Homo sapiens: one gene and its partners. The protein of the gene in region 2 purifies or fractionates together with the protein of the main gene of each other region. This does not show direct contact. Each region holds a gene or a part of one and is shown on either strand. Other genes may lie near its edges.

Evidence for each region.
Region 1: the proteins of MKX (region 2) and TBL1X purify together in Homo sapiens (affinity purification with mass spectrometry; 3 studies listed by BioGRID and IntAct, with this or other methods). This does not show direct contact.
Region 3: the proteins of MKX (region 2) and TBL1XR1 purify together in Homo sapiens (affinity purification with mass spectrometry; 3 studies listed by BioGRID and IntAct, with this or other methods). This does not show direct contact.

The regions. Positions count from the first base shown.
Region 1 is NC_000023.11:9,703,876-9,714,027, forward strand, and holds part of TBL1X (F-box-like/WD repeat-containing protein TBL1X), read left to right. Parts: intron 1-1,117; coding exon 1,118-1,239; intron 1,240-5,372; coding exon 5,373-5,447; intron 5,448-5,757; coding exon 5,758-5,885; intron 5,886-7,735; coding exon 7,736-7,901; intron 7,902-10,152. UniProt on the Homo sapiens protein: F-box-like protein involved in the recruitment of the ubiquitin/19S proteasome complex to nuclear receptor-regulated transcription units. Plays an essential role in transcription activation mediated by nuclear receptors.
Region 2 is NC_000010.11:27,734,693-27,744,844, forward strand, and holds part of MKX (homeobox protein Mohawk), read right to left. Parts: exon of another isoform or gene 9,770-10,152; intron 9,701-9,769; exon of another isoform or gene 9,329-9,700; intron 8,806-9,328; 5' UTR 8,724-8,805; coding exon 8,536-8,723; intron 6,813-8,535; coding exon 6,653-6,812; intron 683-6,652; coding exon 529-682; intron 100-528; coding exon 1-99. UniProt on the Homo sapiens protein: May act as a morphogenetic regulator of cell adhesion.
Region 3 is NC_000003.12:177,017,332-177,027,483, forward strand, and holds the end of TBL1XR1 (F-box-like/WD repeat-containing protein TBL1XR1), read right to left. Parts: intron 9,144-10,152; coding exon 9,042-9,143; intron 8,194-9,041; coding exon 8,167-8,193; 3' UTR 2,013-8,166; downstream 1-2,012. UniProt on the Homo sapiens protein: F-box-like protein involved in the recruitment of the ubiquitin/19S proteasome complex to nuclear receptor-regulated transcription units. Plays an essential role in transcription activation mediated by nuclear receptors.

The DNA of each region.
Region 1 (10,152 bases), on a different chromosome or scaffold from region 2:
GTCACCTGTGCTTCCAGTGCCTCTCAGGGCATGGTCCAGCCCTGTGGAGGCAGACGCTCTGAGGACAGAACCAGGGCCTGGCTTTTAGCGAGTGCCTTGGCCATTTTGGTACATTGGGAAGTTGTTGGATTCCCAGCTGCCATCCTAGAAAATAAATCAGAAGGTAGAGAATGAGACCCATAGCTGTAACTAAACTACAAGGGGAGGTCAGCTCCCCGTTGTTCTGTCTTTGTGACCCTGAACCACCTGGACCTGAGAAAGGCCCAAAGTCAGGGAGGGTGTCGGTCACAGGCCCTGAAGTGTGCGTTCCGTTTCATCCCAAAGGGGTTTTTATTGACCCTAATTATCCCCTAGTCAAGGGGATGCCTTAATGTGTTACAGGAGAGTTTTTTTCATATTGAGGTATCTTGAACATAGGACATGAAATCTTTCCTCTCCTTTTTTCTCCTCTTTGTCCAAAATTAAATCAAATGAGCTCACTGCAGAGATGCCGCTGGAAGCAGCAAGGTACAGAGCAGGCAGGGCGGCCCTCTCACCTGCCCTTCTTAACTGTGCCATGGGAGCGGGAGATTCTGCAGGCTGTGGGGTGCAAGAAGTGTCACGGAGCCTCTCTCCCAGGACATCTTGTCATCCCTGCCAACGTGGCAGGAGAGGGTCTTTAAGGTCTTAGAAAGAGACTGTGTTCACGCTTGAGACGTTTTTATCATGTTACTAAATGGGGCTTCTTGGCTGGGTGCAATGGCTCACGCCTATAACCCTAACACTTTGGGAGGCCGAGGCGGGTAGATAGTTTGAAGTCAGGAGTTCAAGGCCATCCTGGGCAATATAGCAAGAACTCGTCTCTGCAAAAAAAAAAAAAAATTTAAATTAGCTAGGCGTGATGGCATGCGCTATTCAGAAGGCTGAGGTGGGTGGATCCCTTGAGCCCAGGAATTCTAGGCTGCGTTGAGCCATGATCGCACCACTACACTCCAGCCTGGGTGACAGAGCAGGCCCTGTCTCTAGAATAAATAAATAAGTAAACTAAAGAGGCTTCTTGATTGTGCTGTTCATTGTTGTAAATCCATGGAGCTGTGCAACAGTGAGTAACTCCAGATGTCCTCCCTCCCTACTGCAGCCCCTGCCCTTGATGTGGACTGGCAGAACAACACGACCTTTGCCTCCTGTAGCACAGACATGTGTATCCATGTGTGCAGGCTCGGCTGTGACCGCCCAGTCAAAACCTTCCAGGGACACACAGTAAGTGAGAGCTCTTGTCACTGGTCTCGAGTTTGTGAGAATGTGATGTGGGAGCCGATTCTTGTGTGCCTAGAATTAAAAGCTACTGCAGCAGCAGACCAGCTCTAATGTGCCCCTTGGCTATTTGAGCTGTCATGGTTACCCCATGGTAACCATGGTGGTTGGATTGACTCAGTTTGGGGTTGGCAGTGAGAACAGTTCACTCAGAAATGACCTAGATGGTGGATTTGGCAACAAAGCCTTTAAGGTAGCCATGAGAAACATGTAGAGGACATCAAGGAAAGGATGCTCACAATAAATGAATAGACGGGGCACATCTGCAGTGAATAGAAAAAAAAATCATTAAAAAACAAATGGAGACTAAGTGTGGTGGCTTATGCCTATAATCCCAGCACTTTGGGAGTCTGAGGCCAGAGGATTGCTTGAGGCCAGGAGTTTGAGGCCAGCCTGAGCAACATAGCAAGACTCTGTCTCTACAAAAAATTTTAAAAAGTAGCTGCGTATGGTGATGCACACCTGTAGTCACATCCCAGGAGCTGAAGGCTGCAGTGAGTTACAGTAGCACCACTGCACTCCAGCCTAGGCAACAGAGCAAGACCTTGTCTCTTTAAAAAAAAAAAAAAAAAAAAGAAAAGAAATTGAGAACTGAGAAATATAATGTCTGAAATGAAAGTCTTAATAGGTGGGTGTATTAGGCAGTTCTCAATTCTCTCATTGCTCTAAAGAAATACCTGAGACTGGGTAATTGATAAGACAGGAGGTTTAACTGGCTCACAGTTCCTTAGGCTATACAGGAAGCATGGCAGCATCTGCTTCTGGGGAGGCTTCAGGAGGCTTCCAACCATGGCAGGAGGTGAAGCAGGAGCAGGCACCTCACATGGCCAGAGCAGGGGCAAGAGGTGGGAGGAGTGGGGGGGGTGTCACATACTTTTAAAGGACAAAAACTCACGAAGACAGCAAGCCACGAGGGATCTGCCCCCATGATCCGGACACCTCCCACGAGGCCCCACCTCTGCATCAGGGATGACAGTTCCACCTGAGATTTGGGTGGGGACACCGATCCTAAACCACATCCGTGGATTTACCAGCAGATGGGAGATTGCGGAAGTAAGGTTAGAGAGCATAGAAATTGGCCAATTTGAAGAACAGATAAAAGATCGAAAAAATGCATAAAGGCTTAATGGCTTATGGAACAATATCAGAGACCCTAAACCTATATGCGTGATGGGGAGAGAAGAAAGAATGGAACAGAAAAATCATTTGAGGCAGTAACAGCCAAGTTTTCCTAAATTTGGTGGAAAACATCAACATTTAATCCAAGAAGCTCAGCAAATTTCAAGCAGAACAAATATAAACAGAACCACACAAACAGAACAGACCATATCCACCTAGGCATATGGCCATCAAACACCAGAATCAATGACAGAGAAAATCCTAAAGGCAAGCAGAGGCTGACAAATCCATTATATACCAGGGAACAACAATGGGAACAACAGCTGACTTAGCAAATTCCTTAGTTTGGCCTCTGAGGCGCTTCCCGGTCTTTCACCAAATCTCCCTCAGATTAGCCAATTTCTATGGTCTCTAACCTTCTGCAATCTCCAGTCTGCTGGTAAACCCATTTACTAGCCTCGACCTCCTGGGCTAGTGTCCAAAAATTCCCTGTGCCTCTGTCCTCCTAAAGACACGTGCAGCCAAGCACCTTGCCCCGCGCTGAGCCCTGCCTGGAATGCTCCCTGCCTTAGACCCCCACAGCAGCTCTCGGTCCAAAACAGAATCCTCCCCAGTCTCCAGGCCCATTCACGTATCCTCTGCACGCCCTGGGGAGGATTCACGGCACCCCCTGAGCTCCTACTGCCCACATGAATGCCACAGCCCTGGCAGTAGCTGCTGGCCTGCGTGTCTGCCTCTCCCAGAAAACGCAGAGTGCATCAATGCTGGGACCATGGCATCTTGCCTTTCTCTCACCAGCACCCAGGATATCTCTGTGGTGGGGCAGGGTGGGGGTCCCTTGTTAAAGCAGGAGAGGATGGTCACAGTCCCTGGAGATTTGCCATTGTGCCACTAACTTAACTGATGTAAATTCCCTTGTCCTGATTCCCCTAATGCCCACCTCTCCCCACCCCTGGCCCAGGGGTCCCTGTCCCAAAGGAAGGCGCTTTTAGAGCACAGGCACCTATCGTCCTGTTAACATCTGTTTGGCTCCAAACTGACTCTCTTCTCCCGGTCTAAACTTATTTCTCCTCTAACCCTGGACTATCCACAAGTTTTTAATAGAGCTGTACACACTATCTGCAGTTCCCAGGTGTCCTGCCCAGGACCTTGCCACCAGCACAGGCCTTGGCCCTTTAAGTGGGTCTTAATGTGGCTGATGGCCCTGAACAAAGCTCCAGCTCAGTGGGGTTGAGTGGAGACCCATGAGCCGGCTCTGGAGGCGGCCCAGGAACCGGGGCTTGCATTGCAGAGCTAGGGATCCGCTCCCAGGAAGTTATTTGTTCCTTTGCATGGGCTTGGCTAGGGACAGCCAGTGGTGACCAGCTCTACATTCCTGGGCCCATGAGTTTTCCTCTGAACAGCTGCAGTCAGAGCCACCCTTGCTGGCCTTGCATACACATTCACACTCATAGACACCCATGCGTGTGCACACTCACAACCCTCAGCCCCCTCTCCAGTCGGCCCCCTCCACCCTCCCGGGCTCTCGCAGCAGCCTGCCCCTGGGCCGCGAAACTTCTTCCTCCTCCCTTTCCTGGGCCACGTGTGCCTCATGGAACACAGATGTGGCCTTGTCACTGTCCAGTTCACACCCTTCAAAACTCCATGTTCTTAGAAAGCAACCTGACCATACAGTTAATCCAAACCGGAGCCCTTAGGAGTATGAAATTTAGAAAATTCATTATGAGTGTGTCATTAGTTAATTGTTAGGCCGGGACAGCAGGTGTCACATGGTGGGACTGGACTGGACATATGGGGCCCTATAGTCACCCCTGAGGGAGCCCCAAGCTGGTACGCCATGTCCCCTCATTTCTCCTGGGTAGGCTGTTCCCCAGCTGAACCTTTGCCACAGGTGGTTCTTTTACACATGCCTGTCCCGGTAGTGTCCCCGTCTCCCTTGGCCCCTGGGTACATTCATTCACCTTTATCCTCCAGGGTTTAGCCTCGTGGTCCCCAGGTGTCCTGAGCCTGTGCTTTTCGCTACCTGGCTGTGCCGATCACGAGCCCCCAGCCAGGATTTTGCCTGTGTCATGTGTGTTTGTGCCACTCAGCATTTGCCTCTCACTTGTGTTGCACATGTGTGCCTGCCTGTGTGTGCATTTGGGTCGCCCATCTTCCACCTGGATCAGCCCTTACCCCGCTTGAACTCCGTAATAGGTGAGGGTTCACTTCTCATGTTTACCCCTCCCTCCGCCTCCACTCACCTGCAGGAGAGAAATACCTTCTAATGGGTGTGGACACTGGAGGAACTGTTACATTAAAAGTGCATAAGAGGCCTGGCATGGTGGCTCACGCCTGTAATCCCAGCACTTTGGGAGGTCGAGGTGGGAGGATCACTTGAGCCCAAGAGTTCAAGACCAGCTTGGGCAAAAATCCCAAAAAAAAAAAAAAAAAAAAAGGGCATGGTGGTGCCTGCCTGTAGTCCCAGCTACTTGGGAGGGTGAGGCAAGAGGATTGCTTGAGTTTAAGAGGTACATGCTGCAAGGACCTGTGATCCTGCCACTGCACTCCAGCCCGGGAGACAGAGTGAGACCCTGTCTGAAAAAGAAAAGTGCATAGGAAAGTGATTTTCAAAGGCCAATTTAAAAAGTAACTGGTTTTACTGGTTTTATTTGCTGCGTTTTATGGTATGTGATTTCTTCACTTGCCTTCCTTCCTAGCAGGGAAGGTTTTTTTCTTAATGAAGTATGGATGAGAGTGGCTGGTGTTGTGTGGTATAGGGCTGTGGTTTTATATAAATGAAAAAGGCAAAGTGAGAAAAAGAGGAAACTAGATGGCTGGTTGGGCTGTGCCCTTTGATGTCAGGCTGAAGCCGAAGACCTTCTGCAGCGCCGGTGGCGCGCTGCTGCCCCCTGCTGGAAGGTGACCTCATCTACTCACAGGCCCTGATGTCTTTTTCACACTCTTCTGCTCTCTTTCAGAACGAGGTCAACGCCATCAAATGGGATCCGTCTGGAATGTTGCTGGCATCCTGCTCGGATGACATGACATTGAAGGTAGAGTCGGCATGGCAAGGGGTGGGCTGTTTAATCCTAGACAACCCCGGGCACTTGATGCCAGTCTCACGGTCACTCTTACATGAGGATTATTTATTACTGACCACCCTCCCTTCCTCTGTCATCCGGTGAGCTACGATTTCTCAGTCATAGTCCCACTGAGAATCGCAGCCTCCCTGCAGCCTTTCTCACCACTGTGCACCCTCCACCCTGCCCTGGGCCCCGTGTGCACCCCCGGGAGGAATGATTCCACATCGTTCCCGGATGCAGGAATGGCTTTTGCTCATGTTGTGTCTGGTGTGTTCTGTAGATCTGGAGCATGAAACAGGAGGTGTGCATCCATGATCTTCAGGCTCACAATAAAGAGATCTACACCATCAAGTGGAGCCCCACTGGGCCCGCCACCAGCAACCCAAACTCCAACATCATGTTGGCAAGGTAAGGGCAGGCAACACAGCTGGCACAGCTCGGTGTTACACAAAGACAACAGGAAATTCTGCTAAAGCGCGTCCATGCACGTGTGTTGAAGCCCTTCAGAGGAAGCAAAGCGGTAGCTCACTTTGAAGGGGCCAGGATAGAATTACCGAGTAACACCTGCCTTTGAGGTAAGGATGGTTTTGAGTCAGGCACAGTGGCTTACGCCTATAATCTCAGCACCCTGGGAGGCCAAGGCAGGACGATGGCTTGAGCCCAAGAGTTCAACATCAGCCTGGGCAACATGGTGAAACCCCATCTCTACAAAAACTTAGCCAGGCGTGGTGACGTGTGCCTGTAGTCCCAGCTACTCAGGAGGCTGAGGCAGGAGGATGGCTTGAGCCCAGGAGATTGAGGCTGCAGTGCGCGGTGATCACACCACTGCACTCCAGCCTGGGTGACAGAGCAAGACCATGTCTCAAAAAAAAAAAAAAAAAAAACAGAAGAAGAAAAAAAACCACCCAACATGACTGCAGAGCCACAGTTGAGGGACAGCAAGCCAGGCAGCACCAACTCCTGTTGACGGTGCTCGAATTAAGGTCATCTCTTAGAGAGGACAGGATGGAATTCCTGCATCCACTGAGAGACGGAACCAAAAAAACAAAGAACACATAGGCCGTAATTCTCATATTTCAAGTAATTGTCATAAAATCCACTTAAAGTACTGTGATATAGTGTGATATAGTACTACACACTCGAGTTGTTTTGTGATGACTCAGAAGGTGCTTTTGCGTCGCGTGGTACTATTAGGAGCATAAATTATCCTTTTAGTCAGCAAGTATAAAAGGGGCATCCCGGTACCTAATGGGTCCCTGTTGAAAGAAAGCAAGCCAGACAATAGCTTTGTGATAGATATTACTGTTCTAAGTTTGAAAATAACTAAAATTTGCAGCTTTCAATAATGTGATTACGTATGTGGATGTGATTGTATTTTAATTCTTGTTTGATTAAAATTTATTTTCTATTTAGAGACAGGGTCTCCCTATGTTACCCAGGCTGGTCTTGAACTCCTGGCTTCAAGTGATCCTCCCACCTTGGCCTCCCAAAGTACTAGGATTACAGGCATGATCTACTGTACCTGGCCTAAAAAGTTTTTTAAATGTTTATTCACTTAATTTGCTATTTTTCCAAATATGGCTGTCTGTATTAATTTAGTTGGTAATAATAGATGTCATGTTTTAAATTGTAGGGGCATTTTAGGAAACTTGATAAATATTCTACAAAAATATTTACCATTTACGTCTATAGGAAACATAGAAACAGGGCTGGGCGCAGTGGCTTACACCTGTAATCCCAACAGTTTGGTAGGGTGAGGCAGGAGGATCTCTTGAGCCCAGAGGTTCAAGACCAGCCTGGGCAACACAGTGAAACCCCGTCTCTACAAAAAATAAAAAAATAAAAATTAGCCGGGTGTGGACCTATGGTTGCAGCTTCTCTGCTGAGGCTGAGGCGGGAGGATCACTTGAGCCCAGGAGTTCGAGGCTGCAGTGAGTCATGATCACGCCACTGCACTCCAGCCTGGGCAACACAGTAAGACCCCATCTCAAAAAAAAAAAAAAAGGTGCAGAAACAAATGTAGATATCAAATTGTTTCCCTAATAAGACCATTAAAGCTTTTTTTCTGTTTAATGACTATGGCTTTGTTTTTAATACTTGTAAGTAGTTACAGTTTAGAAGACAAAAAGCTTTTTAGTTATTATCTTTTGAAACGTAAAAGCTGGGAAAAACAACTCCTGGAGATCTGATACACATTATGGAGAACTGTTTGAAACCACCGTGTGTATGTGATTTTGCTTTCTCTCCCACCTTGCTAGTGCTTCGTTTGATTCTACGGTGCGACTGTGGGACATAGAACGAGGCGTCTGCACCCACACGCTCACGAAGCATCAGGAGCCTGTCTATAGCGTAGCTTTCAGCCCTGATGGGAAGTACTTGGCCAGTGGATCCTTCGACAAGTGCGTCCATATCTGGAATACTCAGGTAAGCTCCCGACCCCTACACCAAATCCTTTTAGTAAGGGATGCCCAAATAGCCACGACTCCAGTGCCCTTGGCTCAGAGCAGTGCCCCGGAGGGAGTTGAGCAAGCTCAGGCTCCCCGGGCAGACCCAGTGGATGCTGTCCACGTGCACCCCACGTGGGCTGTCAGCTCTTCCCCCACCAGACACCTCCGGCAGCTCCCCTCCCTGAGGAAGGGCGTCGTGTCCACCGTAATCATGGCTCTTGGCCATTTGATTCCAAACCCTCACCTTGGCACACGTTCTTCCTTGAAGGAGCCGCTGTCTTCTGTTCACTTTTCTGAGTCCATGGCACGAAACCTTCCACCTGCCTCTTCCTCTTCTTAGCAGTTATCACCGAAGTGCTGCTCTCTAGATACTGAGGTTAGAAGGTGGGAGTGGGGGACCAGCTAACGGGGTCAAGGCCACACCAGCTCCTGCAGCTCCCTTACGGAGCAGACCAGGGAGTGGGAAGGAATGTGCTCTTGCTGTTGTCATGCCACTTCAATTTTTCTTTTCTGTTTTGTTTTGTTGTTGTTGTTTTTTGTTTTTGTTTTTGTTTTTGAGACGGAGTCTCACTCTGTCACCCAGGCTGGAGTGCAGTGGCGCGATCTTGGCTCACTGCAACCTCTGCCTCCCAGATTCAAGCAAGTCTCCTGCCTCAGCCTCCTGAATAGCTGGAATTACAGGCACCCGCCATCATGCCCAGCTTATTTTTGTATTTTTAGTAGAGACAGGGTTTCACATGTTGGCCAGGATGGTCTTGAACTCCTGACCTCAGGTGATCCGCCCACTTTTGCCTCCCAAAGTGCTGGGATTACAGGTGTGAGCCACCGTGCCTAGCCTCAATTTTTCAAATCAAAGTAGGTTCTGTTTGAGGACATAAGGTATGTCAATATTGGGTTGTCCTTTTAGCAGGGATTGAAAGGACATAGGATTTAAATAAAGGTGGCTGCTGTGGGTATCTTGGGCCACACCTGAGGATAGAAGAATTCCAGCTGTAAAGTGTAGAAATGGATGGGAAGTAGCACTGCATAGCATAAAGGATTGTATAGGGCCATCAGCACGTGATTCTAGTCTAAGGGAAGAGAGAGGTGATAATATGCTAGGAGCTGTTGAAAATAAGGAAGGGGTCCCTTTCGCCTCAGGAGGGGAGGAATCACACAGCCTTCCCCCTGCCCCCTTTCATCTGCACTGCCTTCTTGGTTCCTTTTGGCTTGGTTGACATTCAGGTGGATTTATACCCTCAAGTTCATTCCCCCTGTGGACTCAATGGTGATGAGCCCTGTTCACTGGCAAGGGGTCCACTGAGATCACAGGCTTCCCAGGGACCTCATGTGAACCACATCCTCTCAGGGAAGGAAGGGAAATGGTGGACCCTGCGTAGAGCCAACCCGACGCCAAGCCCAGCCCCACAGCCCTAGATAGCTCTCCGGGAAGCACGCATCTCAGCACTAGTGTCCAAGAGTCTCCGTTCCTGAAATCCTCGCTAGAAATAGTAATGGGTGGATTTGTAAAAAGAACACATCAATTATCAAAACAATGACATGATCAGTTAGGTACAGCCTGTTGTCAGGAACTCACTGAACTGTTTCAACCCTTTTTTATAAATCAAAGAAATCCTTAGGACTTTTCTTTTTTTTTTTTTTTTTTGGATCGGAGTTTCACTCTCGTCACCCAGGCTGGAGTACAGTGATGCCATCTCGGCCCACTGCGACCTCTGCCTCCCGGGTTTGAGCGATTCTCCTGCCTCAGCCTCCCGAGTAGCTGGGATTACAGGTGCGCACCACCACAGCCGGCTAACTTTTGTATTTTTAGTACAAACGGGGTCTCACCATGTTGGCCAGGCTGGTGTTGAACTCCTGACCCCAGGCAATCTACCCACCTCGGCCTCCCAAAGTGCTGGGATTACAGGCATGAGCCACCGCGCCCGGCCAAGAAATCCTTAGGAATTTTCTTAAGAGAAATCTTAAAGCCCACTTTAATCTTTCTCCAAGTATAAAAATACTTATCTGTAATACTGCCGACACACACCTTTCTCAGTTCATGGAACACCACCCTTTAAGGGGCCCAATTGAGCAGAGGATTTGGGACAGCCCTCCTGGTCTCGGTGTTCAGATTTCTCCTGCCTGTCACCATAGTGAATCATGAGTGAAGGCTTATTCGACTCTTTCTCTCTTTTTTATTTTTTAAAATTAATTTTTGTAGAGACGAAGTCTCACTGTGTTGCCCAGGC
Region 2 (10,152 bases):
CCGCTTTGATGACCGAATTCTCACTTTTAATCACAGGATGGTGAACTGGGGTATTATAGCCCCCTTCGTTCATGTGGGTTCTTGGAGGATTTTCTCCATCTAAAGTGGAACAGTATCACTAAGTAGGGTGGTATGCATACTTTCCCCCAGCCACCCAACTCTTATATTTAATCCTTAAAAATATATAAAGGAAATATATTTAAAGTATATAAAATTATCTTTGATAGTCAAGATCAATTTTTAGGCAATGAAAGCAAATATTTATGTCATCTCTCGCTTATGGTATTTTAATTTTAATGAATTTCACTGAATATGTTATTCTGACACATGGTATATCTATAAACAAGAGGAAATGGCCATCATTCCTTTGGTCATTTATAGTATTATAAAAATGAAGTTACTTCATGCAATAAAAAAGAACCGTTAAGGCACCATCATATTTTGTGAGAGCAACCTTAAAAATAGCAATTATGGTGAACTTGCTAATAGAGGCAAAACAAAGAAAGCAAAATAAAAATATTAACAAACCTTCAGAACATGAGTCATCACTGCTTACGCTAAGCCGTTCAGCATTGCCTTGAACATACTTGTTGTATAACTTTATTCTCAAAGCCCAGCTTAAATCTGGCTGTCGAACGGTATTCTTAAGCCGACGTCTTGCATTAGCAAACCAATTTGACACCTAAAACAGTATTATTTTTCAATTAACAAAACTTAAAAACATTATCCATGGTGCGATTATTTTCTCATAAAGGAGCTAAGCCTCTCTCAGCACCTCTGATCATTAAATATTCTCAGGACATAAGAATACCGGACATTCGCATCCATTCATTCATTTGACAAACATGTTGCTTACTACAGACACTGAGCATTTAGTGTATTTGTGGAATAAGGAAAAATGAAAAGGCCTTGACATCAAAAAATTTAATAAGAGAAAAGTCCAGTAAGAGAAGTAGGAGGGTATACAAATAACTAGTATAAGAAAGAATGTGATGAATGGCATACAAGACATTAAAATGATACGAGTCCAAAGGAAAGAGGGGTTACTTTCATATATGACTCCAGCCTTTTTGAGGAAGTTAAGTGAGCCTTTGAAGAAAGTCCAGAATAGGTCAGGTCAAGAGGGAAGGGAAGTGCATTCCCAATAAAGAGGACACAGGAACAAATAGAAGTGAAATTCCACAGAAATTGTAGGGGTTGAAGAAGAGGGAAGAGTTAAAGATGACCTTGAGTCATCAAACCTGTGGAACCAAGAGAAGGGTAGTGCATTTGGGGAAGGAGATGAAACTTTCTGAGGATAAAATGATGTGTTTGGCTTGGGCAATGTCTAGTTTGAGGTGCTAATACTGGTGACATGTCTGGTAAGAAAATAAAAGTGGTATCTGAGATTGAAGGGAGGGGATGAGCAAATTCAAGAGGAAAAGGCACAGAGGTAATAGTCAAAGTTGCAAGAGTAGAGAGAGTGAAAGCAGGGTCAAGGGCCAAGCTTTGGAAACCATTAGAGATGAAAAAAGTGGGATCTGTTCGCTTCCAAAAGAGGCGTTAGCAAAACAGAGGTAGAACCATGGGTGAAGAGGGGGAAAATAAACCAAAGAACTCCTCACTTTAAGCCAAAAGTCAAATGTTTCTTAGACAAATAGGTGAAGGCAAAGAAAGAAATATGTCAAGACAAAGAAAAGCTACTTCCATTCTTTTTTTTTTAAAGATGTTACTGGATTTGATACTTGAAATTTCTTCTAAAATACCAGGTTATCATCAGTGCATAGATTTTTAGAAACTCAAAAGGGCAATACTTGCCTTTAAAAGAATGAAACATGGGAAGAGAATTAAATCTTTCTGCCAGTTTGGTCCAGAACATGACCAAACTGAGGAATTTAAGCTAGGCTTTGAAGAAAGGCCAGATTACTATAATGGTTTGTGTGGCAATGTTTGCACTGGAAATTTCTACTTTTTTTTTTCTAGATTTATACTATAAATACACATTTTTTGTGCATTACTCAAGTCCTTATTATTCTACTTAAAAAAAAATCTCAAATTATACTTTTTCTCCCTGTCCTCATGGGTAAACACACGGTGGGTTTCCCATATGTATTTAATATTCAATATAGTTAATATTGTCTTCTTTGTACCTGAAGCAATGATAGTTATCCTTTCAAATTTATATGCAATGACATATTATCTCACTGTGGCATTTCAGAAGTCAGTCTTCACCAATGCTTCTTCCTGCTAAGCTATGTTACTATTACTAAGATTCAGTCTGACTTCAAATTCTCAGTCCTTCCCATTCTCTACAGACAGACAACAAAATTATTGAGTGACTATTGTACTTTAGCCATGGTGTTAAGTCCTAGGAATGAATAAGCTTTGTCTTCTGCACTCCCAGAAGGACTAGCGGAAAAGAACTACACATAATTAACTGGGATACACTGGTGAACATTAGCTGTGGAAGCACAAGGAGCCTGATCCCTTTCTTCATGAAATTTCTCAAACTCCCTTGGATTCTTCAACTCACTGCCAAAATCTTCATCCGACTACTTTATCCAGCCATACTACTAGCTGGGAATTTGAAAACATTTCTCTTTCTAACTTCCCTGTCTTCCATTCTGTTCTCTTAAATGGATCTTAGCAAGTATCATCAAATTCAAGAATTGATGCACCATTTTGATTTAGTCACTTCACTTCTTCAAATCCTCATAAATGTCCTGTTATCCCATAATCACCATACAGTGGAAGAGGGCCTGGCTTCCTGTTCTGAATTTGCCAAAAACATGCTGTGTGAATTTGGATAAATTATTCAACTTTTCTGAACTTTGAATCCTTCATCTCTAAAATGGATTTGATGGTTCCTAATATCCTTGCTAGCTCTAAAAATTAAGATGGGTGAATACATCCCAAGTTCCCCTACAGCAATGTTAATTTCCTTTATACTAGGTACTAACCTCCCTCTGTTGACCAGTACTGTCTCCAGCAAGAGTGTTTTTGTCCTTCTTTGCTCCTTTCACACACAGAGTACAGCCTGCAACTTCCCCTAGATCATTCATATTTACTAGAATCCAACTCCAAAACATTTTTGTAACTTTCTTTACTCAATGGGATATAATTCAGACTAACCTTAAATCTTAACTAACCTTAAATCTTCACACAGCAACCACACATAGTACAGTGTAAAATCCAATTCTTATGAAACTCTTCTTATAATGAAAATGCAATGGCCTTCTAATTTTTTAAAAAAGTAATACACTACCCTTCTAACAGATAAAAATGGGGGAACATTTAAATGATTTAAATGTCACAGGGGATTAACTAACTTTTCATGTATAGGAGTCATATCTCTTTTAAGTTTTATATACTCATAGTCTTTTTTTTAACCATATTATAATAGTTACACATTAGGTGATTTTCCAGAAAGGTTTGCTGATGTCTATTATAGACTGTTTCAAAACTGATTTCATAAATTGACCACCACCCAATCTGGTAATATATATATTCTGCTGGGGTTTTTTGTTCTTTTGTTTTTTCAGTACAACTTAACAGCTAGATACACTCCAAGGTCTTTAATGTGTATTTGCAGTAGGTCCTGCAAACAGCAAATAGTTAGTTAACAAATTTGCATATACTTGTTTTGCATTTCTTTCTGGATGAATTAATGCAAATTCCATCTGTTTCACTGAAGGTAAAAATATCGGTTCAAATTTTCCACTTTTAATCTACTATGGATTCCTTCGGGTTGTCGTTCATATTCTCTTCAAATTGTATTTTACATGAAACAGGTCTCCTTAACCAAGGATAGGTTCTGGAACAGAATTTTAATGTCAAACTGAATGCTATATGTGTATATACGTATAGATGTTTGGGCCTCTAAGCTTTCACTATAAAATATGGGAGATAGTTAGATATGACTAATTTATATAATTATGATTTATATCAGTATCTATCTATCTATCTCCCATATTTTATAGTGAAAGATTAGAAGGCCAAACATCTAGAAGCTGGGAGGGAAAACTAAATAATATTCATCCTACTTTAACAAAGGTGTTTACATTCATCATGTTGACAGAGCAATTGTTATAGTACACCCAAAGGGATAAACTGGCATCTGTCCATGTTTGAACACACTGAATTAACGAACTTCTGAGCTATTCAACTGAAATATTGAGCACTTCATTTCCACACCATGTAATATAACACTTGGAATAATGAATAAGGACTGATCTGAGATTTTGTTGAATATTTAACGTTACTATAAGCCTTGTAGCTGATAATGGCATATATATATCAGCAGGCACACTCAATACCAAGCAAAAACAGAGTTATGTCAACAGAGGAGACAGAATCTAGGAACATAGCAGTTTTAACAAATCGTATGTGGACATATCACAGGAATATGAGACTTTCATTATTAGAGGAGGAAGCATTAACATCTACTCATTACTCCTTGATAAGTTCCATATCCTGCAATAATACAAACCCCAATCACATACCATTTTATACTATTCCACAATAAAGCTGTTTATATTTTGAGAGTACAGAGTGTATTTCTATAGCATTTGAACAATGATCAGCCATAGGATCAGCCATAAGATCCGTTGGTAATTCTATACATTTTTATTTTTTCCATTTATCACTTTAAAGTTTCAGAAACTAGCTTCATTAATAATAAAATTTGAAATCATTATACAGTTGTCATTTATTATTATAAAAATTATCTTACCCCACTTAAAATTACATATTTCTGTGCATTTTTATTTTCTGAGCACTAGTGTAAGAGAAAAAAAGTGTTTTGAATGAAAATTTCATGTAAAGCATATTTTAAAAATGTAATAGCCTTACCAAGATCTAAATGTAAAAAGCATTTTTATTTGTATTTGAACTATCATTACAGGTGGCAAATAATTTAAAATTATAACTACTTGTATTGCAGCTCAACAAAAACCACTACATAAGAAAGTTTAAATGGCTCTCCTAATGACAAATGCTACTTCATAATTTAAAAATGTCCTAAAATATGTCATCAATGTTCTTTTGTTTTCTGTATGAAAGAATAGTCTCTATTAAATATGAAGCTCTATAATCAGCCAAAATAACCTAGTGTTTCATTGCTGACATCACTGTGAAATATTCAGATAACTCTATAAATTAGTGTATTTTAAAAATAAGTAGCATACTTATTTAAACTGAAATTTTAACATAGGTTATTTATTTTCATAAGTCAGGTTTTTCTGACTGGAATAATTTATTTCAAAACTACTTTGGTACATTGCTAAAAGATTCATAGTTTTATGTTAAACAGATATTAAGCCAAGAACACTAAATTAATTTTCCCCTCCACTGCTGCAGCAAATCACTATTAATACCATTGCCTGATAATATGAAAGAAAACAGATGTTTTTGTATATAATTATATTCTGAAAATAAGCAGAAATTACGTATTCTAGTATTGATAGCCTGACAATAAGTCAACTTTCATGCCTTGTCAAACTTTCCAGTAATTCCTAAAGGGAAATTTTAAATACTCTGGAAAGCAATCTTTATTTTATCCACTAGTTCCTTTTTCCTTTTTGGAGTTCCTGCTTACTGTAAATTTAGCGGAATGGCCAAATTTTCACAATCAGGTAATGCTACCGCAATGTGCAAAACTTTTCACCTGATGTAGCCCCTCCTCCTCTTCTTTCTGAATAAATTTGCCTATTTGCATGTAAAAAAGTTCAAGCCACCGTATTTATTTTAAAAAATTGTGACATGACGGGAAGAGCATTTGGTCTGGAATTATTTATTTCCAGGCCTGTCTTTTACTGACACAACTGCCCCAAGTCTTGATTATGTCAAGTGTAAAATTCTGATAGTAACTGCCTACAACATCGTGGTTTTGTGAACAGTAAGATTCAGTTTTGAAAAGCTAGTCAAATGTAAAGTAACGTTGTTCACCAGAGAACACACAAACTTTGCACCATTTCTCTACACTTGGCAAAGTAACCCAACCATCTGAAATCTGCCTCCTCTCCTTAAGCCCAGCAGAAAAGCATCAGGAGCAAAATGCTGTGGATTGCAGCTAATGTTTAGGATGCTTCCTATTAAAAAATAATAATAAATAAGTGTGTGTGGGGGGTTGTTGATCCAAACATCATTTCTTGTCTTTCTATCCCCTACTCCTAGCTGTCAGTAATGGTAATTTTGAAAGTTACTCTGTACCTGAGCTTTAATACTGGGCCTTAATATGGAGCGTCACACTGCGTGGTTCTCAAAGTGGGGTTCCTCCCTAGCCTCTGCTTCAGTAACACCTGGGGCCTTGTAAGAGATGCAAATGATGGTCTCACCCCAGACCTGCTGAATCCGAAACTCGGAGGTGGGGCCTAGCGATTCGTGTTTTAAGCTCTCCAGGCGATTCTGATGCTCACTAATGTTGAACCTTCTCGTAAGTCTGCAGTTTACTTTTCACTTCCCTACCTGACAGCGCATCCTGCATTCTTTCCTGCACGGAGCATCTGCACTGAACTGAGGGATGAGGGTGAGAGGTAATTCAGAAACTCCCACAGCTCGGCTCCATCCCTCTCCAGGTAGAAGCGCCACGTGGAGAGCCACACGAACTCTAAGCGTTCCCGCTCTTCAGCCCCTCGCGGGAAAACGGATCAGGGTGTTAATGGGTCCTGATTACCTGCACTAGCGTCATCTGCGAGCCGAGGGCCAAGAGTATCTTCTCGGTCTTGGTGGGGTACGGGTTGTCACGGTGCTTGTAAAGCCACTGCTTGAGGGGTCGCGCCATGTCTTGCAGGGCCTGCCGCTTGTGCCTCACCTTCCCGCCATTCTGCCGGGCGCTGGGACATGGGGAGAGGAGGCGGCCCTGGTGAGCGACGCGTTTGCCCGCCCGGACGCTCCACGCCCCGGCCAAGCCCGGGCCCCGCATCCAAACTGCGCATTCCTGCCTTGCGCCCCTGCTTTGCGCGCGCCCAGAGTGTTTGGGAGAGGCAGGAAGTGGGAGCCACACAGTTTCTGGATGGGGAGATCATTTCGATAGGTTTATCTTGAATAGGGGGATACCTTGAACCCAATACCCCAAGGTTAGAGGTTTAGAAGACGAAGGTCAAGTGATTTGAAGAATACTGCTATTCCAGTCGCGTATCTGGGCAGCGGGGCTAACTGCTACCCTTCCCTCACCCGCTGGCGCCGCACCCTCGAGTGGCCCTGGCCTGGCAGGCCTGGCAGGGTATGCGGCTGGCTCTCGAAACTTCCCTCGGGGATCTCTTGTCTGCTCCCAGAGGCTTTCCGTCGCTTGTGGTCAGGGGAAAGGTCGCCGACTGGACATAGGGAATAAAGCAAAGGAGCATTGCCGCCCCGGCTCTCTTTAAGCTATTTCCTTTGATCTTTTAGGAAAAGGGGGAAACTTTCTAAAGGAGTTGGTGGTTTGTGGAGGAAAGCTGCAGAACCCAAAAACACCGTCGGGCCGTTTCCCGACTAAGGGAGGGTTAAAAGTACGGCAAGCTCTGTCCCATCATGTAAGGTAAAAAGACCTCAGGAAAAGCACATTCAAAGGGGGAGGAGGCAGAGGCAGCCAGGAGCCTGGAGCGTGGCCTGGGGCGCTGCGCTCCCTCACGGGTCCGGGAGGTGTCGCGCGCGGCCGCCAGCGAGCCCAGCCGCTCCCCGAGGCTTGCGCGCCTGCGCCGGAGCCTCCTGGGTTTCTGCCTCTTTAAACACTTTGAAATGCAATTCCACCCGAAACGACTGGTAGTAACATTTTGACGAAACCGAATCTCTGTTTTACTAAGCAGCGACGCCGCAGAACAAGCAGCTGATGCAATCGTTCAGGTGGAGGCGGCTAGGACGGCCGCCCCTCCCCGGCGGGGCGCCCGGGGAGCCGCCGGATCGGGCCAGGCAGAGCCTGCCCTCCACTCACCGGCAGTCTGAGCAGCTGGCCCACCCGCAAGCTACCGCCCCCCCCAGCATACCCCTCACCCCGCTAAACTCAAACCCGGCCCCGCAGGCCCGGGGCCTCCCCCTCCGGGTTCGCCGCGGGCCCAGCCGAGCCGCGCTCACGCCCGGGACTCCCTGGCGGGAGGCGACCTTCCCGACTCCTTGGGCCAGGCGAGCCGCGGGGCTCTGGCGAGGGGCTCGAGTGACCGAAGAGAAGTCCGCGGAGCCTGAGCCTGGACTCCCCGACTGCTCGGCTTCGCCTGTTTCTCTGCACCGAGCTCAGTCCTTTTTCCTCGCCCTCAGCCGCGCACCGGCACCCACAGTCCGGAGAGGGGCAAATAACCCCCAACTCCGAGGTCCAGGCAGCGGAGGGCCGAGGGGCAGCTCCTGGCGCCCTTAGTCTCCACCAAGCTCTTTGGAGCTGCCCCGACGAATTGATCCCTCATGTTTTAAGATAGGAGCCCCTTAACATGAGAATGCGCGAGCCCTGGAGGGGCAGACCTGCACTCCCAGGGAACTCCGGGCCCTTTCCCGTCCACCCGCCCGCGTTGCCACGGGACCCCGTCACAGCTCACCACCCCCACCCCTCCGGGCCGCAGGCGGGCAGGGCCCCCAGGGGAGTGCGCATACCCGGTCCTCCGGTGTCTCAGGCCGAGGTTGTCCTTGAGGGGCGGGCCGTCGGGAATGCCCACCTCGGGGCGGGCGTGAGGACTGTCCAGGACACCGCTGTAGGGCCGGCCACCCCGCTCCCGCTCCGAGGCGCCTCCGTCCTCAAACAGCACCGCACCGCTGAGCTTGTTGAAGACGATGGTGTTCATGGTGTCGGTTGGTAGGGACGCGCGGCGCGGCCGCAGAGCCTCGGGGCTGGGCCGCCGGGAGCTCCGCAGCGGGGCTCGGCTTCTAGGAGAGGAAGGTGCATCTCGTTACTTACTGGCTGAGAGTGCTCAGACCCCTGCAGGTTCAGGGCCTTGAACTTGGCCGGGTCGCCGGGCTGCGGAGCCGAGGGGAGGAGCGGCGCCGCCGCAACTGGCAGGGACCCTGCGGCTCTCCCCAGTTGGCTACACGCCCCCGCCCCTGCAGGTTCCCCGGACAGGTACCTGCCCTCTTCCTTGCCTGGGCGATCGATCCCCCCAATCCCTTCACTCCCCAGAACTACAACCGGGAATCATTCACCCGCAGAGGCAAAGGAAACGAATTCCCAAACGAGCCTCTGGGTTTCAGTTTGAATCTGGGAGAGGCATACTCCGGACTGCGGAGCGCGACCGGCGTGAGGCCGCGCGTGGTTCTTCAATCACAGCAGAAGACTAAAGCCTCTAGGAACCCCAACTCGGGGCGTCAGGAGGGGTTGGATGGAAGGGAAGATTTGGGGTAATGTGCCAACCGTATCCACAAGACCCCCCAGCTCATGAGTCCCAGGCCATACCGGGATTTGGGGGATTTTCGTGTTTTCTAGATCGTGGATGGTTTGGTTGAAACCCCCGCATCTTCTGTCCGCCAAGGTCCCCCGGGGTGAGGTTGGGTTCAAGGACAGGAAAAAGTTAAGTGGCGTCAGGACGAAAGCACCACTTCTCCCCCTTCTCTCCCAGAATCTTCCTATCATCCCCCAACGCGCCCCGGGAAGTGCATGGTCCTAAGGTCCAAGGCGCCAGGACCCAGGTCCCCAGAGCCCTCAATCAGTGCCATTCTCTTCCGCAGCGCGGGTGTCAGCCGCGAGCTCGTAGCCCCTCGACACCCGCCTCTCTCTGGGGTCTCCGGGGACCCTTTCAGAGGCTGTAAAGGTGTCAGAAGCCCAAGGCAGGAGGCAGCTTGGTCGGCGCACCTCCCGGGCCACTGCTGCCACTGTCGGGGAGAGCCAGCAGCTCACCTCTGGGGTCGCGGAGGCCCTGAGCCTCTGCCTGCCGCGCACCGGCGTCAGGAGCAAGTCCGCGCGGCCGCGGAGCCGCAGAGTTACAGCCCCAAGGCGCGCGGCGGACTTCGCCCGCCCCATCTCCTCGCCTCGCGCCTCGGGACAGCTCCCGTTTCCTCCGAGCGGCCTCAGCTTCGCTGCCAGCGCCCCCTTTGCCCGTCCAGCCGCGGCATGGGCTGCTACTCCACTAACACACGCGCGCGCGCATACACACACACACACACACACACACACACACACACCCTTTGCCTCGCCAAGCGCCCACACTCGCCAACGCCCCCGCCCCGCCCTTCGGCCACCGCAGCAGAGGCCACGCGTGACATTTAGGACCACGCGTGACC
Region 3 (10,152 bases), on a different chromosome or scaffold from region 2:
AAGCACTCTTCAATCTCCCTTCTACAAATTCTTAAATGGCTCCTTTTGAAATCATACCTTGTTAGTGCCAGAAAGTGGCTTGGAGGCAAAGTTTTTTTTTTTTTTTTTTTTTTTTTTTTGAGACAGTCTCGCTCTATCACCCAGGCTGGAGTGCAATGGTGCGATCTCGGCTCACTGCAACCTCCACCTCCCGAGTTCAAGCGATTCTCCTGACTCAGCCTCCTAAGAAGCTGGGATTACAGGCGTGCGCCACCATGCCGGGCTAATTTTTGTATTTTTAGTAGAGACGGGGTTTCACCATGTTGGTCAGGCTGGTCTCAAACTCTTGACCTTGTGATCCACCCGCCTCGGCTTCCCAAATTGCTGGGATTACAGGCGTGAGCCACCATGCCCGTCCAAGGGAGGCGAGTTTTAAAGAATCCTTGAAGTGTGTATTAAACGAGTGTACATCAGAATTGACTGTTCTATTTGTCCTGTAGATATGAATATTTTATTGCTCCATTGTAATAGTAAACGGTGAAAAAGTAAATTTACATTATAGGGGGCTAAATCTTGGTGTACAATAAAATCTTACCATTAGGAATAAAAATGTTTGGTAATATACAGTGTGCTTTATATAACCAGGCACCATTCTCTAAGGGCTTCAGATATATTAACTTTGTAATCTTCACAACCCATCAATGAGAAAAGTAACTATCATTATCCCCATTTTACAGACAAGGAAACCAAGACAGCAACTCCTTAGGCCAAGCAGCTGGTCTGGATTCATCCCAGGTAGTCAGTCAGGCAGAATTCATGCTCTTTAAACCATACAGTATATTCTACATCTACAGTATAGGGAAGTACTTGAATGTACTTAAGTGGATGGGACAATGGTCCCTGATGGTTTCTGTGAAAAAGTGAGTTTCTGAATTCAATGATTATGATCTCTTTTGTATTTTTTTTAAAGTAGGTATTGAAAATGCTTAGAAGGACATATGTCAAGTTGTTAACAGTGGATACCACTAAGGACTTGGTTGGGAGTTTGAAAATGAACATTTATTATTTATACCTTGTATTTAAATTTCTTTAACCAGCATGTGCTCTACAATAAATATACCACATGCTAGTGACAACCACCTCCCACATTATGACACAAAACCAAACAAGCATATGAAAAGCAGCACACATACCTTGTGCTACCATATTGGTCAATGGGTAGGACAAGGCATAAAAGATTCCAACGCACATTCCAAGTTAACCAACACTGTTTAAGAAGTAGAATGAACTTACCGCTAATTGACTCTTATCAGACTTCATTTACTTCAACACCAGATCTGTCCAACTTCAGTTTATTCCCACACACTAAAATATTTCAACCATTTCAGGTGGAAATATTAAAATCCATATTACATAGCTAATTTTTATGTCATATTAAACTTAACTTGAATTATTTGATGACTCTAGGCCATCCCAAATGGCAGCTCTTCATTCTGCTAGGAGTTTTAGCTATTCCTCCCTCTCTATGGGGAGCACTGTTCCTCATGGACCCAGGTTGGAAAATCAGATAATTGATCTGGTCCAGCAAGTGTACGTAAATTAAACCAATAAAAGCTTAGGGAAAAGGTCTTGTCTTGGCAGTGTGTAGATTCTTCAAAATCCCCTATATTGAATGTGAGAGATCCTGGAAGCTGATCCTGTTTTTAAATGTCTGATTTCAGACTGTGAAGTTCAATGTGACTAGATTTTTTAATGCAAGTCTATTTGAGGTGCTCAGGCAGTGCTTGTTTTCTCCACAGGAGCCCGGCCCAGTGGCAATCCAACCTATGCTTTACGGCTTTCTGACAGCACAACATCTCTTAAGGCAGCTCGTTCTGACATTAGATTAGTATGTCAGAAAGTTTGTTTTTTTTTTTTTTAAATAAGACTGTGATATCTTTTTCGGTATAGATTCCACCCCATTGGTCTTAGTTCTTAAAATATAAATTGTCTGCCCAATGGATCATACAAACCCAACAACCAAGAAACATTAGTAATTGTCTTCTGTACTTTACTAAACACTTTGTGTTTAATATATTTTAAATTGTAAAGAAATTACAAGGAACTCCTAAAAAAATTTAATACAAAAATATTACAAGTTAGGACAATTAAGCATTAAGATGACATTTAAGAAGCATGCAGAAAAAGTAGCATAGGGTTAACATTTCATTGATGACAAAGCACTTTGGTACAGCAGAGAAAAGCACCATAAAACTACCATCTAAAGTGTCTTTTCCTCCACTGTATTTTTTCAAATGAATATATTGGTAAAACAGTAAACTTTGATCTGATCTGCTACGGATTATACTAGGTAATAAATCTAATCCATTGTAAAGTGTTAACTATGAAATTAAAAATAATCCCTTCTATTACTGTTCAAATTAGTTTCAGCTTTCCCTCAAGCTTATAAGGATTCTAATCCTTAGGAGTCCAACCCTTTTTGGAAAAGTATACAATGCAGGATATTACTAATAATCTATGCCATGCAATAAAAGTTAACCCCTTGAAAATGAAAGCATGTCAGTTCTAGCAACTGCAGTGGCTTATTTCTAATAAAACATAAAACTATGCTTGAATTTATTTCTGTTTAAGGAAATAAACAGGAAAAATAGAAGACCTAGAGAGTGTAAATTCTTAAAAAAAAAAAAAAGAAAATATGCTCAATGATTCTTTTTAAAAAGTCTCTAACTCTAAAGGAGTTGGTATTAATTAAAACTAGAAGGTGTCTAGTTGTTTTTCTTATAAAGTTTGTAGTAACAACTAGCTAAGAGAGAAAATGATTCAACTATAATTGGCTTGTTGTGAAGCAAAAAAAGGTCACCGAGAAGTTGAGCCTCCTGCCCTAATCTTCAACACATCTACACATTGTTTTGTGCTCAACCGTGTGGCTAACCAAACAAATGTTATCTAAGGTCTCTTTTTCAGCTTCTGTGAAATAACGTCTTTTAAATACAATATTTATTTTTCAAAAGAATTAAAAATTACAATCCCTTAGCTGATTAGATGCTCTATTATACTTTAATAAAAATAGTAAATAACCCCTTCATTTAAAAAAATCTTATCTCCTGCAAGAAGTAATAAAAATAGTAAAATTTGTAATTTTATTATGGGCTTAAAGTATATATCTTGGGAAACAATACGTTTATGAAAAACAGTGGTTTGGGTTCTGATGGCAGTTATTAATCAGTAACACCAGTATGGGAGAGAATGAATGTGTTATAGGTTATGAAGGCTAACTTGGAAAAAAAGGTTTATTCTACAATAGAACACTGGAGAAGTAAAAGCAATTAAAATGTAAACAAACTGTAAACAAGAAATACCATCCCTCTCTCTTTACCTGACTAGTAAATAGTCTATATAAACTACATAGACATCAAAGGTTTTATATATGTACACAGCCAACATAATATCAAAATATATTTTATTCTGGACCTCTTTCAGATCTGATTCAAATTACAGTTGTCAAAGCAATACAATGCAAAGGGGAACTGCAACAACAACAACAACAAGAAATGTGCCTAGAAAGGATAAAAGGGTCACTGGGGACAAATCATTGTGATGTGGAACTAAAATACGTCGTAAGTGTAATTAACATGGTCCAGGACAGCACAGAACATCTACATCAGTCTTCCTTACACAATAATCATGAAAACTGAACAATGAAGTTCTTTAACATGTACAAAAACCTGTCATGGGCTGGTTTACACTTTTACAACAGTTTTAAAGTTAACTGGATAACTAAAGAAATGATGCAGACATTTTAATCCAGTGCTATAGGTAGGCTCACAGAATTAGACCCAAAGGATTTGTAAAAACAAAAATGGAAACAGTATAGCTACAATGTCAAAGTCAGGAAAGAAGAAAATTTACTTCCGTATTCAAGGATTACAGAGCTACAAATGCAGTCTGTGTGTTTTTGTTTGTAATGAGATGGATAAGTACATCAGACTAGATACAACATGCAGAATGTTTTCCTGAACTTATCCGGAAATTCCAAAGAAAACATCATGAAACAGCTTACAAAAAAAAAAAAAATATATGCCCTAGTTATTCACCCTGCTTCAACACTGTCAACGTAAAGGCAGAAATAAAGCAAGCTATCAATACCTCAGAACTACTGATATAAGACATCAAATTTCTAAATCAGTGTATTAAAAAAGTGAACACTTCCTCTTTCTTCTCTCTTCTACATTTAACTAGAATCATGTTTAAAAAAAACTGATATTAAATGTGACACTTCAGAGCTACTACTGGAAGGAGTAATTCATAACTTCCCTACCCTCCTTCCATCCCTGCTGATTCAGGAGAAGGGGGAAAAAACAAAGAAAACAAAACGAAAAACCAACCAGGGTCTCTTGTAGATTTGCTGCTATTCCACAAAATGTTGGCATTTGCTGCCATGCCACAATGTTGGTCCACTGAAATAGGATTTCTGCGGAAACTGTCAACAGTAGTAATTCACCATATGCAAGTACCATCCTTATCATGCGAGAATAATCACAGGTTCTGTAGAAATGTACAATGTACTTAAGATAATGAAAATTGTAGCGCTGCATTTGAGATTTATTTCTCTACTTAGCTAGTAAAACTTGTCATTTTTGCTCACTTAAGTATGATCATTTGTGATTCCTTTAAATAGCAAAAATGCACAGTCCTCTTTAGGCCTCTACTCAATAATAGTTTACATTACTCTTAACAAAATCATTCTACATAAACAGATAGCTCCTTAAAAATAGTACTCTCTCATTAAATCTAATTTGACAGAAAGAAGTTTAAGGGAAAAAGGAGTGCTTTGTAAGTGAAAAAGTACAAATCTTTGGCCTTTCTCTTGACATTTTCGTATGTCAAAAAGCAAAAAACCTTCATGTATTTCAATCTAGTGATTACTTTTTGCACCATAATTTGTTTTTTACACCACAAAAGGAGGCACTTTCAGTATCTGTAAAAGGTATTTAATCCTAAAACATACTTACCTAGAGAATAATTAAAACAGAATTCAATACAATCTAGTATCTATTAGGAAATTAAGAGTTATCACTTCTAAAAGTCATTTGAAAGTCAATGATGTTATCTGGTCAATGGCAGGAAATGGGAACTGGAACAAATATAAGAACTTATGGGATTTCCTACACGGAGACAAAAAAAGATATTCCTTTATGTTGTTTAAAAGTGGCAGCTGCTCTTTCTTTATTCCATTTTAATCAATGAGTATTGATTCAAGTTTTCCTTTCTATTTTTCCTTATGATAAGTTTCTTACAGTAGCTTATACAACAACAAATAGCATAGAAAAACTACTGGATTCAATTGATCATCAGGAATAAGTTCTCAGAAAAACACAGGCGGAAAAATAAGCAAGAATCCCAAATACAGAACTTTACAAGCTGTGAAACTTGGTCTCTTGCAATCATGTTACTGCTCAAATTAGAGACAATCTTATTGCTGTCTATTGGAGCAGCATCGTGGCACATCAGCAGGCAATGATGATGTTGAGAACAGCAGCAAAAATAAACAATCGTATGCTCATGAAGAACCCAAGCCTACAAAATGGATACCTTTCAGAAAAGTATATACTTAAAAGACCCAAGACGTCAGGATAATAAAGCTCTGTATTTATAATCTTTTATATGTCCTATTGTGGCTATTATGCTTAAGTAAAATAGCTAAAGAAAAAAAAGAAAAAAAAAACAGAAAAGATGACAATATCATAAAAATGTAGCTGTCTATTTTGGCAGCTATATTGCAGAATTTCTTGACTATCTTTTAATCAGCTGGGAAAAAGTCAATAACTGTATGCAAATGAATAAACTGTCCATATCAAAATACAAAAGTACTATCAATAATCACCTCTGACTTTCAGATTTAAATTCAGTGCAATTGACAAATGCATCACTAAAGGAAAATGCAGCTTAAAAGATACTCAAAACATTTGTGTCTATTCCTGGGAGCACATTTTAAAATTATTGCACAGATTTTTTTAATTTTTATTTATTTTTTTTAAACAATAACAGAGGTCAACCACAGATGTGGACCTCCAGCAATAAAAGCAGGAATTCAAGTGCCAGATACTCAGCATATTAGGTTTCCTACGTAAGTCACAGGGTAATATGTTCTAAATATCTCTAATGTGATCCAAAACCCTAAAAAGAGCTGGCACAAAACCATCGTGAATGACTGCCTCTCTTGATGTAAATTTTTAAAAATATTATTACAGTATCATAGTCCCCACTAACAACAACTGGGGTACATATAACAATGTATTGTGAAATTAAGTGTATTTATTCTCTTTACCAATAGCAAATGCTACCCTACCTTAGTAAAACCAAGACTTGCTTCAATCAATGCTGTTTTGTAAAAATAGCAAAGCAACGAATGCTGAAATCAATCAAAGCTGCATTACTTGGGTTAAATCAGTTTCTACTTAGAACACAGGTTAAAATTTTAGTACTAAAAGGCCTCAAAATAATTAGTGACAGAAATAGTGTTATTAATTTGCTAAGCTCAACAATAAGCAATTCCTTAATTAAAATCTTCGAGATATAAATTTGATGACTATTCTCTTCAGAAATGACATACCTGGATTATGTTAATCATGACAAGCCTTATTAGTCACACATATAAACATGGCCTCATGCAATCATTTGTCTGTATATGTTACTCTAAGTTGCATGAGCACAAGGTTTAATATCTATATCTTTAAGAAAATACTTGATATTATAAACAGAGTAAAAGACATGATATAGTAGTGATTACTAAAAAAAAAAAAATTAGCAGCTTAAATCTATCTATATTTGAAAAAACGTAGTCACAAGTACCACAAATGCAGAATCAGAGCAGCAGGAAGAAGGTTAGTGCAATTATACTTTCATTAAAAAAAATTCTGAATCACTGCTATTTAAAAACACCTTGAAGCAAGTCTTTTGTTTGAGATTGTTTTTTAAACTAAGGTAGCAAACATTTTGCCATGTAATGGCAGTGTTATATGCCGTTATCTTGCTTTGTATAAAGAAAACAACATGAGAGATTTTTAATACTGGAGTTTGGTTACATTACATATTTAAGCTTCTACACAGAATGATGGACACTTCGAGAAGCTAATCCTTATCCAGAAACATTTTAATCTCTTAAAAAACAAAGCAAAACAAACAAACAACAAAAAACCCAAAACTACGTTGCTCCTTTTCACAATAGTGCACATTTTTACCATAATTTAGTTATGGCTACAAAACATCAGAAGATTTTTTTTAATGTATCTTCTCTATGGTAATTAAAAAAAAAGTTGTGCCCTTCTAGTCTTTAATTGGCAGAAATATGTCCCAAAAAAGAAACTATTGCATTTAAGCCACATCACCAAAAAACAAAAAAGAAAAAAAAAAAAAAAAAGCAAAACAAAAAAACAAAACCAACAGAGCATAATACCCTTTTACTGATGTGTCTTACAGATTGACATGACCAAAGTCATAGGTTTTCATTTAATTTCCAATTCCCCCTTCCACAACATGCACCAACTGAATATATGCTCTGGGAGCCATAAAATGTACCAAACATCTACCTCTTCAAAAGAATGCATTAAAATATTTTAAAGAATTTTTTGTTTAAAAGGTGAAAAAAATATAAACAAGAAACTGATTCACTCCCTTACTTCATGCATCCATAATCTAAACCAAAAACGAAATTTTAAAGCAAGAACAAACTACTGCTGCAAGTTTTTGTAAGTCCATTTTCTCTGTACATACAAACTGCTCACTACTGAAGGGAAAAAAAGAATATAATCCATGGTGTCTGCTGATTCAAAGGGGAGAAACAAGGCTGTCATTTAGTATCCAAAAACTGGTACATGTATGTTCTGCTTTTATAATGTATATTTTTCTCTCTTCTGTTTTTCATATCCAAAACTTCTAAATGCTATTTTAGGGGCACAGCAGATTAGATTCCAGCACTTGGTGAACAGAATTCACAAGCTGTGACAAAACTCTGTCATCTTCAGGGTGCAATTTTGTTTATATACACTGTATGTATATATTTCTTTTAGATTTGGCTGTAGTGGACTGGCCATGGTTCAAGTGGGACTATAGCAGTACATGGGTCAGGGACAGTCATTTTGGCTATGTACACATTCATAGTCGGTCCATGGCTTCCAACTAGTAGCGCTATTTCCGAAGGTCTAATACACAAACCTGTAAGAAATTAAAATAATCAACCAGTGTATTCAGAATTTTATTGTACATTTTATGTTTAACTTTTCTATAGTACAATTTGAAATGTTTCTTAGTTCCAAGTTTATAAAATTGGTAAAGCATAATAATCATGGAAATGAGCACTTAACTGACAGAAATCAGACAGATCATTTAAGCAGATCAAGAGAACAACCATGAGCTCAAACTGTGGGGGAAGAACCACGGCTAGGATTTTTATACTCTCTGTTGATTAAAAAGGAGGGGGAAAATGCTCAAAACAGACCATTTCCTATCTATTGGACCCTAATGAAAGATATCACAGATTATATTCAGCTACAGCATCAGTAAATAGCTACCCTTTTCCCACCTTCTGGTGCTTCTACAGCTTTGGAAGCCATATTTGCATTGTTGTAAAGAGTTGGCTAACCTCATCCTGAAAATCTTTCAGTATCACACATTCCTCAACACAGGAACCAACTGCCTCTAGTTCTGCCTTCCCTGGGCCAAAAAAATTCTTCTGTGAAGAGGAGAAGGTAGAAATACACATTAAACATTTCAATCCTTCTCAGAATGTTCCTCTGGTATACCTAATTTCATAAATGAAGGTTCATATTAAAAATAACTGTCCATTTCTAGATTATAAGGTATTTGGTAAGGACAGCCTAAATTTTGTTTACATTATTTGAATCCAACGCACATGAAAAGTTTACAGCCTCAGGAAAAAAAAAAATCAGTATCATACCTTAAAATTTATTTTGAAAAAAACACTTTGGTATCACTAACAATAAGCTGCATTCTGATGTGAATACCCACCCACACCCTCTTTGGAAACACTTTACTATACTTACTGAACCATCTGATGCACTGGCTCCAACTTTGTCTCCTGCTGCATTCCAGCAAACTTCAAATATTCCACCTGTTCCCCTATAGCTGTGAACTAGAGCACCTGTCTAAAAGAATGAAAAACAAAATCTTAAAAATCGTAATACATATTATAATAAATCCAAATGCTGAAATAAAAATATTACATAGCTTTATTTCTAGCAATCAGAGGAGGGACTTAGCTTCAACTATAAAAATAAGTTCTGAAATTCTAGAAATGTAATATGATCCCTTTACAAAAAGATAATACCAGCCTGTTCTCAAAAGATTACTCACACACATATTCAGTTTCTCCAGTCTTGATAACCATTCTTGGCTAAGGTATCTGGTCTCTCTGACATAGCCAACAATAGCTAGAAGTAAACAGTCAGTCTATCACATGAAATAAGTTTTTGTTGTTGCTAAATGATACATGAGTCTAGCTAACATGTAGAGAAACAAAATAAATTCAGAATTTCTTTGACAAAACATCTTAAAGAGGAAGTATAACAAACTAGTAAAGATAATTCCAGTATAAATCTGTTATTCACTCTATATTTACTGACCAGTTCCTAAGCTAGGGGATTATAAAAGAAGCTAAAATAATGTATGTATGTTCCTTTTTTTTCTTTAGACAGGGTCTTGTTGTTACCCAGGATGGATGCAGCTGTGCAATCATAGCTCACTGCACCTTCTAACTCCTGGGCTAGAGTGATCCTCCCGCCTCCACCTCCTAAGTAGCTAGGATTACAAGTGCATGCCACCATGCCCAGCTGATTTTTAAAAAATTATTTGTAGAGACAAGGTCTCACCGTGTTGCCCAGGCTGGTCTTGAACTCCTGGCCTCAAGCAATCCACCCACCCTGGCCTCCCAAAATGTTGGGATTATAAGCATGCACCACAGTGCCCAGACAGATATGTACACTATTCTTGAAAGACGTTATATGTTTAAACAAAAAACACAGGCAGGAATACTAATAATGTAATCATTCATTAAGCTGAATCATAAATGTAACAACGTTATTTTATTATTCAGCTGCTACTGAAGAATTAAAACTCAATCCAAAAATATATTCTCCTATGAAACCAGTCAATATA